Regions from separate parts of the Homo sapiens genome. Here region 2 is linked to region 1. The links come from fine-mapping of genetic effects on gene expression. Tissue or cell type: whole blood. Region 1 holds a variant in brackets; the other region holds the start of a gene. All regions are shown on one strand. Distances are between the middles of the regions.

The links. PIP is the estimated chance that this variant, and not a neighbour inherited with it, causes the effect.
Region 2: it holds the start of SCARA5, and the variant in region 1 is fine-mapped to the expression of SCARA5 in whole blood (INTERVAL, PIP above 0.99).

The regions. Positions count from the first base shown.
Region 1 is chr8:27,842,409-27,850,513 of GRCh38, forward strand. No RefSeq gene overlaps it. Among named protein-coding and RNA genes, the nearest start is that of PBK, 8.6 kb to the left of the region's middle. The variant A/G (reference allele first, on the strand shown) is at 4,102.
Region 2 is chr8:27,988,744-27,996,828 of GRCh38, forward strand. SCARA5 (scavenger receptor class A member 5) reads right to left here and starts at 3,930. Exons shown (of 9, transcript NM_173833.6): 1 at 3,514-3,930.

The DNA of each region.
Region 1 (8,105 bases):
AGCAGTTCTCCTTTCTCTTTCTTTTGCCTATTAAATCTCTGCCCCTAAAGCCACTTCTTGTGTGTCCACATATTCGATTTCCTTGTGTAAAATGAGGAGCCTCGGGTATTTACCCCAGAAAATGACACCACTTCAATTGGTTAGGTGGGAACTTTTAGGAAAGAAGAGGAAAAATATCAAAATGTTAAGGTTTTATCTTGTTACATCTGTATATCCAACCAATCAACTTGACACATCCCTAGGGTGCTTCTCAGGTGTCCCAAAGCCATTAGGTCTTCAGATGAGGCCATCGAGCAACAGACTTGGATCAACCTCAAAATGTTCAGCAAAGAAGCTACATGCAAAAGAATACACTATTGCATAATGCTATTCATATAAATCTCAAAACAGGCAAAACAAAGCCATAGTATTTAGGAGTTCATGCTTAACTGACAAAAACATTACAAGGTAACACCACCAAAGTGACTACCATCAAAATCAGGTTCATGATCACTTTGGAGGAAGAAAGTAGGAAGGATCAGGAGAAGAATGAGAGGGGCTCCTGGGGTGCTAACATTCTAGCTCCCCACCTGAGTGATGCTACACAAGGGTTTGCTTTGATAAATCATTGTGCTGGACATTCTGTTTTGGGTACTTTTCTGTAGTGTTAAGTCCACAGGGGAAGAGCTTTTTAAAAGCAAAGGGACATGTACTCCATAAATATATACACCTACTGTGTACCCCTAAAAAGTTAAAAATTTAAATTTAAAAAAAAGCAAAGGGAGAAGAAAAAAAAATGTGATGGAAAGTGAGCCCGGGAAGGTCTGTCACCCACATAGGGACACAGCGAAAGGGTTCCGTTATGATCTTCTCAATGAGATGCACTTGGTGCAACCTGGAAGGCAGAAATGAGATGGAATCCCTTTCCTGCCCCTTTGCCTGTTTCCCCTGGCAAGCACAGCTCGGTGGGGGATGGCGGGGGGGGGGCGGGGGGGTTTGGGGGTTTGGGTTTTTTTTTTAGGGTTTCAGCAACCACATTCTTGTGTCTAGTCACTTACTTTGTGGGTCTTGAAAGACACCTGCAGTGGCAGTGGTGGTCTCCCAATCCGTGGATCACAGCTATGATGGGTGTCCTTGAATCTAACATGAACCCAACACCCCCAGTCCCAGTCTCCTGCCTGGCAATGGGCAGGTGTATAGTGGAAAAACAGTTTTTCTCTATACTCACACTCAACACTTCTGTGACCAGATGTGCACACTTTTTCCCATGCCAGCCACTTTTCCCACACCAGCTGGGTGTCGTACAATTCAATTCAGTTCTGACACAGACCAGAGTTAGCACAGACCTCACAGGTTAAGGGCTCAGTCCCACAACACCAGCCCCCAATTCAGATGCCAATCACAAGTAGTAAGTCCCCAGGACACCCACAACTTCTGTCTGATTTGGCTACAAATTGGAGCTTCCCATGAACCCCTCTTTGGGTTCAATATTTTGCTAGAGCAGCTCCCAGAACCCAGGAAGACAGTTTACTTACTATTGTCAATTTATTACTGAGGATATTTCAGCCAGATGAAAAGGTACAGCATAGGGCAAGGTCTAGAAGGGTCCCCAGCACAGGTCCCCATAGAGTTAGAGTGCACTAGCCTCCTGGCACGTGGATGCATTCACCAACCTGGAATCTCCCTGAACTCCATCTTTTAGGGATGTTAATGGAGGCTTCATCACAAAGGCATGATTGATTATTAACCCAATCGCTAGACCCTCTCTCCTCCCTGGAGAATGAGGGGTAGGGGTGAAAGTTCTAGGCTTCTGATCATGGCTTGGTCGTTCTGGTGACAAGCTCTCATTCAGCAGCCCAGCAAAAGTCACCTACAGACAGTATAACAGATGCTCCTATCACCCAGGTCATTCCAAGGGATGAGGAGCTCTGAGTCCAGACCCTGGCATCTGGGAGAGGTGCAGCTGCAGCTGTGGAGCAAGGTGGGTGGGGGTTTGCGGGGAGGAACCCTTTGCACATCCACCTAGGGAGGGCTGGTCTCCACCAGCTTTGTTCATCCTCAATGGCTAAAGGTTTCCATTTGCAGTTTTCTGACTTTTCCTACCTCCCAATAAGAAGCGAAATTAGCTGGTTCTGGGAATACGGGGCTTGAAAAACAAGAAGTGCTTTGGAAAATGTGCTGGGATCTGAGTCGCCTGTAATTGATGAGTTCCTGCCTCCATTGTGGTCCAGTGAACTGGGAAGATGTGGCAGGGAACTCAAACCCTCCCTAAGGGAAGACGCCTACTTAATGCCTAAGGAAGATGAGTTTTCCATCCTCTGTGATTGTGTAAGATTTCCGGGCCAGCCCTGACATCTGGCCACAATCTCAGCACCCAGTCATTGTTTTTGTTCCACAATATTCTTTGCTTTTTAACTCCATCAGAAAAAAAAAAAAACTGTCTTGATTCTCAACATGTTAGGGTGAATCAATACAGTGATTAATAGGAAATAATTTTTGGTGGTTTATATTTTAAGTACTAAGTACCCATCTAGAATGTATAGGGTGGTCAGGAACTTAGAGGGAATGGAAATCCTCCTGCACACTGGATGCGGTTTGAAATTATCCTGCCACTAAGACAACAGCAGCATAAACATACTGGGTGAAGAAAAATAAGCCGGATGTTCTCAGGACATCTGAAAATCATTGGTTCAGACCCTTTCCTTAGGGAAGATAGTTAAATGGAGAAGTTGGTCACTTTAGAACCCATGAAGCTGAGGCATGAGAACAAGCCCAGAGCTTTTTCAGCAACGTGACACACTCAGTTTGTTTGTTTGTTTTTTAATTAAAAAAAATAATTGGCCAGGCAGAATGGCTCATGACTGTAATCCCAGCAGTTTGGGAGGGTGAGGTGGGAGGATTGCTTGAGGCCAGAAATTAGAGATGAGCCTGGGCAACATAGCTAGACCCTGTCTCTCCAAAAAAAAAAAAAAAAAAATTAGAAAAAAAATTAGCTGAGCATGGTGACTCATGCCTGCAGTCCCAGAGCCTTGGGAGGCCAAGGCAGGAGGATCACTTGAGGCCAGGAGTTCAAGATCAGCCTGGGCAACATGGTGAGACCCTATCTCTACAAAAAAAAAAAAAAAAAAAAAAGCCAGGCATGACGGCGTATGCCTGTAGCGCTGGCTGCTTGGGAGGCTGAGGTGGGAGGACTGTTTGAGCCAGGGAGTTTGAGGCTATCGTGAGCTGTGATTGTACCATTGCACTCCAGCTTGGGTAATAGAACGAGACCCTGTGAAAAACGAAAAAGCAAACCAAAAGAAACTTGTTCCTCAGGCATAAGGGGTAGGTGGATATCAGAAGGGAAGGGCCTCCTAAGGCCCTAATACCTATGCCCCTTCATGCACCTATTAATATTCTCAGCATAAATTTAGCAGCCCTCAATCAAAGAACAGTCCCAAGCTAGGCATAGAGCTCATTAGATGGCTGCTATGGTGAATGAGACATATGTTTGTATTTTTAAATTGTAAGCCTGAACTAGGAAGACTTTGATGAGTCTGTTCCCTGTGTGTGGGAGGAGAGATTGCATTTGCATTTTATGGATTGCTCAAGAAAACTCCAAAAGTGGGAAAACTCATTCAATTCCCTCCCTCATTCTCTTATTTATCTCTTGAAAAAATGAACCTGAGCTAAGTGCTGGATGTTAAAAAAAATGAAAAGATAAAAAAAAAACTTGCTTTCAGGGAGCATTCAGACTACTTAGCAAATGGATGCAATACAATGTGTCAAAGAGATAATGGATGATAGTGAGCCTGACTGTGCTGGGGGTGTCCTGCAAGATTTCATTGACTTGGGTCTTGAAGTATGACAAGTTTGCATGATGATCCTGTTTCATGGGCACAAGGGCAGGGCAGGGCTCACCAGGCAAGAGGATAGGATGGGTAGAGGCATGACAAAAGATGCACAATCTTTGAACAGTAAAGAGCAAGGAAGGCTGGGTGCGGTGGCTCACTGCTGTAATCTCAGCCCTTTGAGAGGCTGAAATGGGAGGATCACTTGAGCTCAGAAGTTCAAGATCAGCCTGGGCAACATGGGGAGACCCCATCTCTATAAAAAATATTTAAGAAATTAGGTGGGCATGGG[A/G]GCACACACCTTTAGTCTCAGCTACTCCTCAGGAAGCTGAGGTAGGAGGATCACTTGGGCTGATGAGGTTGAGGCTGCAGTGAGCTGTGACCATGCCACTGCACTCCAGCCTGGGTTGCAGAGAAAGTTCCTGTCTCAAGGAAGACAATAATAAGGCAAGGAAAAGTAACTGGGGAAATAGGAAGAGGCCAGACCATGGCCTTTTCTGGTGTAGAAATTTGAACTTCATTTTGTAGGTCTTAGGGAGTCACAGAAGGATTTAAAGCAAGACAGTGACATGATCAGAATCATGTTAGATGGAGAAATCTCCCTGTGATTATTGGTGGGAGCAGGTAATGGGAAATTGTGGTAATCCCGGTGATAGATCAAGAAGGATGACACTGGCCAGTCGAAGTGGACTGTAAAGAACAAAACCAATTCTACCCCAGCATTTATGGGGTAGAATCAGTAGCAGAGTTTGTGAAGTCATTAGAAGCCTCTTGCCAAAACAAAAGTTTGGTCCCTCAAGAAGGGTACTGCAATATGGTCAAAAGAGAAAGGCCAAAAGTGCTTTCCTAGATATTGCTCCTCTGTGGCAGGAACAGGCAGAGAACCAAAAAGAAAGGAAGCTAGGAAGAGTATCTACCAAGCTATACCATGCCTCTGAGTTCACACTGTGGTTAGGCTAAAACTCTAAGAGAATAATAGAATATAGTTGAAAATTCCAGGTTGGATCAAGACTCAAGGCATATCATTTTGCACCTGCTATAAGTTCCTTTAAAAAAAAATCCTATCTGGGGCCAGGTGCGGTGGCTCACACCTGTAATCCCAGCACTTTGGGAGGCTGAGGCGGGCGGATCATGAGGTCAAGAAATCGAGATCATCCTGGCTAACATGGTGAAACCCTGTCTCTATTAAAAATACAAAAAATTAGTGTGTGTGCATAGTGGCACACAACTGTAGTCCCAGCTACTCGGGAGGCTGAGGCAGGAGAATCGCTAGAACTGGGAGGCGGAGGTTGCAGTGAGCCGAGATCACGACACTGCACTACAGCCTGGGTAACAAGAGCAAGACTCCGTCAAAAAAAAAAAAATCTATTTTGAAAAATGTAATATATTTAATTTGTATTGAGTCAAAATTCACATGCAATGAAACGCATAGATTTTATGTGTATAATTGATAAGTACACACACAATACATGACTGTGTACACAACTCCTTTGTATGTGATTGGAAATATTTTCTCCCAGTCTGTAGCTTGCCTTTTGATTTTCTTGACATCTTTTGACCAACAGAAGACTTTTTTTTTTTTTTAATTTGAGATAGAGTCTTGCTCTGTCACCTAGGCTGGAGTCTGGAGTGCAATGGCATGATCTCAGCTCACTCCATCCTCCGCCTCCAGGGTTCATGCAATTCTTTTGCCTCAGCCTCCTGAGTAGCCAAGATTACAGGCATGCACCACCATCCCTGGCTAATTTTTATATTTTTAGTAGAGATGGGGTTTTGCCATGTTGGCTAGGCTGGTCTTGAACTCCTGACCTCAGTTGATCTGCCTGCCTTGCCCTCCCAAAGTGCTGGGCCACTGCACTAAAAGATTTAATTTTAATGAAATCCAATTTAACATTTTTAATGGTTAGTTTCTAACACTTTATTTTCTTAGAGCAGTTTTAACTTTATAGCAAGATTGAGCAGAAAAGATGGTATTTCTATATACTTTCTGCCCTCCACATGCACAGCCTTCCCCATTATCAACATCCCCCACCAGAGTGGTGCATTTGTTACAACTGATAAACCTACACTGATATATTAGTATTACCCAAAGTCTATAGTTTACCTTAGGGTTCACTCTTGGTGTTGTACATTCTGTGCATTTAAATAAATGTATAATAGCATGTATTCAACATTATGATATCACACAGAGTAGTTTCACTGCCCTAAAAATCCTCTGTGCTCTACCTATTCATCTCTCTCTCCCCAGAAACCCCTGGCAACTACTGACCTTTTTACGGTCTCCATAGTTTTCCCTTTTCCAGAGTGTCATATAGTTGCAGTCATATATTATGTACCCTTTTTTAGCCTTTTTCACTTAGTGCTATACATTTAAGTTTCTTCCATGTCTTTTCAAGGCTCAATAACTAATTTCTTTTTAGCACTGGATAATATTCCATTGTCTGGATGTAACATTCACCTACTGAAGGACATCTTAAGTGCTTTCAAGTTTTGGTAGTTATGAATGAATGAAGCTGGTATAAACGTTCATGTGTAGGTTTGTGTGTTGTCATAAGTTTTCAACTCTTTCGGGTAAGTATCAAGGATCTAAAAGGTTAACGTTATACCCAAGGTCATCTAAGTTTTCTCCTGTGTTATCTTCTACGAGTTTTAGTTTTACATCTTACATTTAGGTTTGTGATCCATTTTGAGATAATTTTTGTGAAGGGTGTAAGGCCTGTGTCTAGATTCATATTTTTTTGCATATGAGTGTCCAGTTATTCCAGCACCACTTACTGAAAAGACTGTCCTTGCTCCATTGTATCACCTTTGCTCCTTTGGAAAAAAATCAGTTGACTATATCTGTGTGGTTCTACATCTGGGCTTTCTATTTTGTTCTGTTGATCAATTTGTCTATTATTTCACCAATAGCACACTGTCTTGATTATTGTAGCTTTATAGTAAGTATCGAAGTTAGGTGGTGTTGGCCAGGCATGCTGGCTCACTCCTGTAATCCCAGCATTTTGGGAGGCCAAGGCAGGCAGATCATCTGAAGTCAGGAGTTCGAGACCAGCCTAGCCAACATGGCGAAACCCCGTCTCTACTAAAAATATAAAAATTAGCTGGGTGTGGTGGCACGTGCCTGTAGTTCCAGCCACTCAGGAGACTGAGGCAGGAGAATTGCTTGAACCTGGGAGGTGGTGGTTGCAGTGAGCCGAAATTGCACCACTGCACTCCAGCCTGGGTGACAGAGTGAGACTCTGTCTCAAAAAAAAAAAAAAAAAAAAAAAAGTTAGGTATTGTCAGTCTTCCAATTTTGTCTTTTCAGTCTATTATGTTGACTGTTCTGGTCTTTTGCCTCTCCATGTAAATTTTAGAATAAGTTTGTTGAGATCTACAACATAACTTGCTAAAATTGTGATTGAGATTGTATTGAATTTATAAAGTTGGGAAGAACTGACATCTTGGCAATATTGAGTCTTCCTTTCCATGAACATGGAATATCTCTCCATTTATTTAGTTCTTTATTTCATGTGTGTTGTAGTTTTCCCTATATAGATCTTGTATATATTTTTTAGACTTATACAGAATTTATTTCATTTGGGAGAGTGCTAATGTAAATGATACTGTGTTTTTAACTTCAAATTCCACTTGTTCATTGCTGGTATATAGGAAAGCAATTGATTTTTGTATATTAACCTTGTGTCTTGAAATCTTGCTATAATTCCTTCTTGGTTCCAGGAGTTTGGTTGTTTTTTTTTTTTTTTTGAGACGGAGTTTCACTCTTTTTGCCCAGGCTGGAGTACAGTGGCACTATCTCAGCTCACCGCAACCACCACCTTCTGGGTTCAAGCAATTCTCCTGCCTCAGCCTCCTGAGTAGCTGGGATTACAGGCACCCACCACCATGCCCAGCTAATTTTGTATTTTTAGTAGAGACAGTTTCTCCATGTTGGTCAGGTTGGTCTCGAACTCCCGGCCTCAGGTGATCCGCCCGCCTCGGCCTCCCAAAGTGCTGGGATTACAGGCGTGAGCCACTGCACCTGGCCTTTTTTTTTTTTTTTTTTTTAAGATTTTTACAGATTTTCTACATAGACAACTATGTCATCTGTGACGAAAGATAGTTTTATCCTTGTTATTTTCTTCCTTCTATTTGTTTTGGATTTAATTTGCTTCCCTTCCCTCTGTCACCAGCTTCTTACAGTGGAGATTTGGATAATTGATTTAAACCTCTTTTCTTTTATAATATGAGCATTTAAAGCTATAGATTCCTTTGAAGTATTGCTTTAGTGGCTTTACAAATTTTGGCATATTGCAT
Region 2 (8,085 bases), 150 kb after region 1:
AGGTTCCAGCCATGAGTTTATCTTGACCTTTGCTTCTGATTCTCTTTAACTATCTGGACATTTAACCAAAGAACAGCATCCTTTAGAAGATAAAAGCCCCATGAGGATGGGTCCCAGGCCCAGTATGGAGCAAACTCAACCCTTCAACCCAGAGGAGGCTGGGAGGAGAGGATGCAGGGCTGGCAGGTGGCAGTGGGGGGACAATGCCTGTTGATTGAGAGATCAGTCAATCAGTTTCTCTTCAGAGGGAGGGTGGGCAAGGAGGCGTGGCAACTTTCATAAATAGACATAATCAGGGAAGGCGGCTGGCGGGGTTGCTCTGCAGCAGAGCAAAACAAGAATTCCGTATTTTCTTTCTTCTTTTTTTTTTTCTGTTTCTTTCTTTCTTTTTTTTTTTTTTTTTTTTTTTTGAGACAGGGTCTCACTCTGTTGCCCAGGCTGGATGGCAGTGGTGCAGTCTTGGCTCACTGCAACCTCCGCCTCCCGGGCTCAAGTGATCCTCCCAACTCATCCTCCTGAGTAGCTGGGATTACAGGCACAAGCCACCATGTCCAGCTAATTTTTTGCAGAGATGGGGTTTCACCATGTTGGCCAGGCTGGTCTGGAACTCCTGGAGTCAAGCGCTCCACTGGCCTCAGCCTCCCAAAGTGCTGAGATTACAGGTGTGAGCCACTGCACCCAGCTGAAGCCCCTATTTTCATGACTTGAGCTTGGCCTCCACAGACCTCTGACATTTGGGCTGAGAAGAGACCAGAACTGACCAGTCACTGTATACATGTCCTTCTAATGACCCAGGAGGGCTGGACGCCTCTGCTGTTAGCCCTTCTGTACATCCCCCATAACGGGCACACACACGCATGTGCACACACACAGCCTTGGGGCTCCCAGTATCTGCGGGCCTCTCCTCCAGCCTATGGGAGGGATGGAACAGGGGGTGGTCCTCGGCTCTGCCAGGATCTCTCCTCCCTGCCCCAGACACCACCCACTCTGGCTTCCCTGTGCTGCAGTGGTGTCCAGTTCACTGGGCTCCCAATTCCGGCCCTCCACCCAATGCCTCCACCCAGGCAGGGCCTCTAGGTGGGGCCGCGGGCAGCTCCAGCACTGCTAAGTTGCAAGGGACCCTCCCTCATTTCATGAGCACTGTGTGCGGCAGCCCTCCCTCTGGCTTCACTCCTTGCGGGGCTGTGAAGCAGGAGGCCAATGTCTCTTTTGCCTGCAATAACCCTCCCTCTGCCAAAGGCAATAGCCTCTGCTTCCCAGAGGCCACACAGAGCCAGACAGGGCGCTGCCCCTGGGGAGTGGAGGTGTGAGGCCCCACTGCCATTTCCACCTTCCTCCTCTTCTGGTCAGCTCCTGGGACGGGGCTGGAATGCACGGCTTGTTAGCCAGAATGTGTGTGAAGGGCAGCTGTCTCCTTCCTCCTCCCCACCCCTCAGCTGGTCCAGCAGGAGCCCAGGGGATCTGCTGGGGAGAGGGACTGGGGCCGAGCGGGGCCAGATGTGAGTGCACAGGGCTTGGAAAAGCTCAGACAACTCTACTCATGTTTGTTACTTGGAATTGAAACCTACGCATGTTCTGTCTGCCCAAGGTTTCTTGGGGGCTGTTTTTCTTTCTTGGGGGAGGAAGCAGGCATTGGGACCCTCAGATCATGGATCTTACTGTCTTTGGACCAAGTCTGTGCTCTAGAAGATGAAACTGATGGCAAGTGCTCCTCCCAGGAGCACTGTGTTGGGGGTAGGCTGATGGCATTTGCATTCCGTCCCTCCCATTTTAAACATAAGCCATCCCAGACCAAAGAGGCAAAGGAAGGAATGGATATCAGAGCGGGAAGAGGCCCCGGGCACAGTTTTCCTACACAGGGCACTGGCTCAGCTGCAGGGTTGCTTTGTTTGGGAATTGCATGTCAGCCCCTTTGGTGACCACTTTCTGGGCCCCAGATCAGGCAGAGAAGAGAATCCCACCTCAGACTGCCAGCCAGTGTACTCCAGCAGGTGGGGATCCTGGGACTGAGGCAGGGCTCTGAGAGCTTGAAGCACATGGGCGAGATGTGGAAGCCACAGTGACCTGTGGATGAAGCCCAAGGAGACTGGACCTCAACTTGCAACTCAAAGAGGGAGGTCTTGCTCTAACAGGGAGGTGTCACCCTCTCCACTAACCTCTTGGCAATCATGATTTACTTCCAGACAATTTCACCCAAGGCACTTAGAAGGGCAGGTTCAGAGCCAGGGATCTGCTTCTAGATTCTGCATTTTAGAGCTGGAAAAGCCCTCAGCCATCTGTGCCCTGCAGCCCTGTGCCCTGGGGCCATCTGCGCCCTGCAGGCCTGGCTCTCTGCAGGAATGCAGGGAACACAGAAGCCAAGGGCTCCCATCCTAGCTCCTCTGCGTATTGGTTTCTTGGGGGAACTTGGCTCAATTACCTGACCTCATTCAGCCTCAGGTACATGACCTCTAAGATGGGAAGGTGGGTAGCTGCTGGTCACCCAGGATCACTGTGAGCCTCCCGTGAGATAATGCATGTGGCATGACTTTATGAACAAGGTCACTCAGGGGAGCTGGTGGCAGTCTGATGAGAAAAAGCATCCCCCAGCATCTTCTGACTCTGCCTGGCAGCCAGGTAAGGGGGTGTCCAGGTTCCCAAGGCCTCCCTCCTACCTAGCCAGTCTCAGAAACAAAGCTGTTTGAAGTTCCCTTTGTAAAAGGCAATCGCGAATGCACTCTAGGGCTGATATCAGGACCCTGGCTCTTCAATCCTTCTCTGGAGATCAGAAGGACTCCATTAATTCCTCCTCTGAGTGGGTAGCACGAGCCTCATTTGCTGCTACCAAGTCAGTTTCTCTGGGTACCCGCATCTAACTCTGCAGGGTTTATGGCTTTTCTTTGGATTACCTCACTTTAAACTCATCAAAACCAAGGAAAAAAATCACATGAGTGTGGCCCTTCTCCAAAGAGAGAATCACTAAGGAGGTTTTAAATGTTTTCCTCCTCTAACTGTACTTAGTTAAGCTAAATCATAACCCAAAGCTGGACAGAGACAGATATTTTAGAAATAACCTCTCCCCACATATATCCCACCACTGGCACATGCACACGCACAGACATGCACACACACACACATGCACACACACACACATGCACACACACACATGCACACACACACATGCACACACACGAAGCCATGGAGAGGAGCTGTCACCTGAGCCATCTGCACCCTGAGTAGGCTCTTGAGCTGTGACATGAGTCAGGTGGAGTAGCCACCAAGGCAATAGCTTCCCTCTGGCACCCCAAATGCAGGCTCACATTCTCTCCAGCCCAGGCAGTTGGATGAGGGCCCGGCAGATATCTGCGGGCCCAGCAGGCGGGGACCTTCCCACCTGGAGAAGGCACCTCCAGGCTCTAGGTCTGAAGTTTCCCAAACTCTGTACTCCTCTCCATCCAGTTCACTCCAGTCTCCTCCAGCTGTCTTTGAGACAGCATGCCCAGGAGATAGGACAAAATTAGTACCAAGACTCACCTGAGTGCCCCTGGCTGAGGCTGTAGAGCCTTGTCCCCTCAGATCTCAGCATTTGCCATGGTGGCCAGAGAGCTGGCTGCCACCACGCTGAGAGCCAGGCCGCCCCTCGGACCGCGTCCCCACAGCCAGCCAAATCCAGATGGAGTCATAGAAAGGGGCTGCAGGGGCGCCCAGGGACGAGTCTCAGAGCAGGACCACAGGGGCCACTTCTGCAGGAGGACCAGGTCAAGATGCAACCTGTGGCAGAGTGGGGGTCTGGGCCTGGGGGACCCAGAATGGGGGGTGTGCGCCTGGGACTCCCTGTCCTTGGTGCCTGGTCCTGGGTAGCGATCAGGAGATGTTCTGAGGAGGCACCGGCAGCTCCTCTAGGTACTGCCTGAGATGCGAACTGCAGCTGCTCTCGCCGCCAGTCCGTATAAAATAAAGTTCTTGGAGCAGTTGCGGAGGCTTCTGCAATGGGGTCTGGAATACGGCCCCCCTCCTGCGGCCAATCGTGGCATTACAGCCCCGTGTGGGAACGCCCGCTGGGCCCAGAGCAGCGCGGTCGGCCTTGGCCTTGGGACTCCAACACCCCAGTCTAAAGGTCCTGCTCAAAATACTTTTTGGAAGACTTCTGGGGGAGTGGCAGCTAGACCTGGCTTATGAGCCACGCAAGAAAACCAGTCTTGTAAATTTATTTATAGCACAGAATTGGCATGGCTCAATTCATTCACCAAGCTTGGCACAGAGTTACTTCATGTATTTTCCTGGAGTCACATTCATCCTCAGTGGACACGGATTGGCCACACTGGGGGTAGTCAGGAAAATGCCCCAGGGGGTTCCACGGAACTCAGCAGCAGAATCAGCGTTTCTGGCTCATTAACGCTGCACAGGGGCTGGGGGGTGCAGGATGAAGACTAGCTGGCTGTCCATAGCAATTCAGTATGGGAGGGGGACCCAGGCACGAATAATCCTAAACCTGAGCATGATTGCTTACGTTTGAAAAAGGACATCTAGGCCGGGTGCAGTGACTCACACCTGTGGTCCCAGCACTTTGGGAGGCTGAGGTGGGAGGATTGCTTGAGCCCACCCACAAGTTCAAGACCAGCCTGGGCAACATAGTGAGACCCCATCTCTAAAAAAAAAAAAAATCTCTTTAAAGGCAATCTAACCATATGTGAAGGGAGCTGCTAAATTCAGATTGAGGTGGTAGTATCAGGGGCATCAGAGAAATCACCATAATTGTCCAAGCCAGGGTGGCAGAGTTAGGCTATGCAGATGGCTTCCAGAGGACAGCACCCAGAGGTAACATTCATGAATGCATTCCTGTTTGTTGGTGAAAAGTTCAGCCTCAAGACTCCAGGGTCAGGCTTCGTACATGAAAAGTGTTTGCCAAGACTCAGCTGTGTCACTGCAGCTGCCCGCCCACAGCTGAGTCAGAAACGCCGTCCTCATTCTCAGTGACTGCCCTGCCTGACTGCCTAGGAAGCAGCTCCAACATCAAACTCCATTTTACAGAAAGAACAAATGATAATTGTATCATTATGGTAATAATCCCAGGGAGCGGAGGAGGAGAAGGAAAAGAAGACAACACTTTATAGCATATACCATGTGTTTCTTATATATTAGCTCATTGAACCTATTCAACAACCCCCTGAGGCAGGTGCTGCTATTATGCTCATTTACAGAGACAGAGAGGAAGTGACTTGTCCAGGGTCTTGTAGCCAGTAAGTGGCAGAGCTAGTATTCAACCCTAGGCAATGTGATCCTAGGGTCTATGCTCTTAACCCCTCCCCTGTACCATTGCCTCTCAAGGGGAAACAAATGTTTTTGTCCCCCATCAATTCACCAACATTCCTAGGAATGTAATCTTAAAAACAGCCAGAAATGTGCTCAAAATATGATGTCCAACCAGCCTGGGCAACATGACAAAACCCTGTCTCTACAAAAAAAAAAAAATACAAACAATAGCTGGGCGTGGTGATGCACACCTGTAGTCCCAGGTGCTTGGGAGGCTGAGATGGGAGGATCAACTGAGCCCAGGAGTTTGAGGCTGCAGTGAGCTGTGATCGCACCACTGCACCCCAGACTGGGTAACAGAACAAGATCCTGTCTTAAAAAAAAAAGTGATGTCCAAAGACCTTCCCTAAAGAGATGTGTATGTTAGCAAGAAATGTGGTAGTTAGTGTCCCCCTAAATTCAAGCATTGGAAATGTAATCTTTATTGCAACAGTGTTGGGAGGTGGGGCCTTTGTGGGGGTATTTGAGTCATGAATGTATTTGGGATGCCGTAGAAAGGGCTTGCAGGAGTGGGCTGGCTTGATCCTCTGCCTTTCTGCCATGTGAGGACTCCACGCTCATCCTCGCTTGTCCTCCCACCTCCCGCCCTGTTCGAAGCACTGAGTCCTATTGCGTGATAGGCACATACCACACACAATGTGTATATCGGTCTCCTGCTGAAGGGGGTTTGGGATGTTTCCAATCTTTGTCTATTATGAATAAAGCTGCCGGAACAGGCAAAGGGAGATTTGACAGTGAAGTATAGGAATGACCTGGAGGGCTGGTTTTCTCATGGGTGAGAGTCCTCCCGGCAGCTCTTAGCTCAGATACCTCCTTGCCACTAAAATCAGAATTGTCCCCAAAATGATTTGCTTCCATTCAATCACGGATGGCATTTGTAGTAGGCATTTCCCCCCCAGAAGCTGAATGAAAATGTGATTGCCTTGATAGAGGAGGGTTCAATAGACTTCTGAAGTAGTTTCATCTATGAAATCTCAGTATTTGAAATGGAGGGACCAAGCTTTTTCAGTTTGTTTTTTCTAGAGGTAGGATGTCACTTTATCACCCAGGTCGGAGTACAGTGGCACAATCATAGCTCACTGCAGCCTCGACCTCCCAGGCTCAAGTGATCCTCCCACCTCAACCTCCTGAGTAGCTGGGGCTACAAGCACATGCCACCACACCCAGCTAATTTTTTAAAATCCTTTGTAGAGATGAGGTCTCGCTATCTTGCCCAGGCTGGTCTCAAACTTCTGACCTCGAGCAATCCTCCCGCCTCCACCAGCCAAAGTGCTGGGATTACAGGTGTGAGCCACCATGTCCAGACTCCATTTTTGACTCTGATAAATGGTGCTGCTGTGAACATTCTTGTGTGTGTCTTCTGGGGAACATATGAATGCCATTCTCTTGGGCATATACCTGGGCATGGAATCGCCAGGGCATAGGATGGCCCTGTGTTCAGCTTTGGTAGACACTGCCAAAGAGTTTCCTATGGTGGTTGTACTAGTTTATATCCAGCAGGGGATGAAACTACACTTATTCCTTGTCCTTGTCAGTGTCAGTGATGTTTATTCCATTTTCCCTGCTCTGGTGCATTGTAGAGGTGCCATATTGTGGTTTTAATTTGCATTTTCCTGATGACTCATGAAGTTGAGCACCTTTAATTATGTCATTAAGTCTGATTGTTGACTTGAACTCTGGGCCCGTTACACCAGCAGGTCCTGCCCTATGGCTTGGGGTTGGCTGTTCCATCTGCCTGGAGTGGTTCCACCAGATGTTTGCACAACTAACTTCTTTGCCTCATTCCCATCTTTTCTCAAATGTCACTTTGTTCATGCTGCTGAGCCTAATGATTCCTACCCACAGGCCAGGCATGGTGGCTCACGCCTACAATCCCAGCACTTTGGGAGGCCAAAGCGGGAGGATCACTTAAGGTCAGGAGTTTGAGACCAGCCTGGTCAACATGGTGAAAACCTGTCTCTACCGAAAATACAAAAATTAGCTGGGTGCAGTAGCAGGCACCTGTAGTCCCAGCTACTCGGGAGGCCGAGGTGGGAGGATCACTTGAACCAGGCAGGCCGAAGCTGCAGTGAGCCAGGATTGCACCACTGCACTCCAGCCTGGGTGATAAAGCGAGACCTGATCTCAAATAAATAAATAAATAAAATTGCTACACACCCCTTGCCACTCTTAGTCCCCCTCACCCTGCTTGGTTTTGCTTACTGTCTGCTAGAACAGCAGCTCCAGGAAGGCAGCTCACTTGAGTGCTTCAAAATGCCTAGCAGGGTGCCTGGCGCACAGTACACGCTCCAGAAATATTGGTTGTGTGACAATCTGAGGAAACAGCATCAGGCACAGGGAACAGAAGGCTCAGAGGCCTCAGTATGGAAACACACTGGACATGCCGGAGGGGCAGAGAAAGGCCCAGTGGCCAGAGCACAGAGGATGCAGTGGCCAGAGAGAGGAGGTCAGGGGAGAGGGAAGCCTGGGTCTCACCCTGAGCACAGAGTGGAGCTGAGGCCACGCCCTTCTTTTTTGTCTCTATCTTCTCCCAGGGAACACATCGATCCTGTACTGTTCATATTTTTGCTTCTTTTTTTTTTTTTTTTTACATATTTCTTCATTATAGTTTGCTACTTCTTGTTTAAACTTTTTAAAAAAATTAATTGTGGTAAAACACACATTGCATAAAATTTGCCATCCTAACCCTTATTTATTTGTTTGTTTGTTTGTTTATTTATTTATTTATTTATTTATTTATTGAGACAGAGTCTTACTCTGTGGCCCAGGCTGGAGTGCAGTGGCGTGATCTCA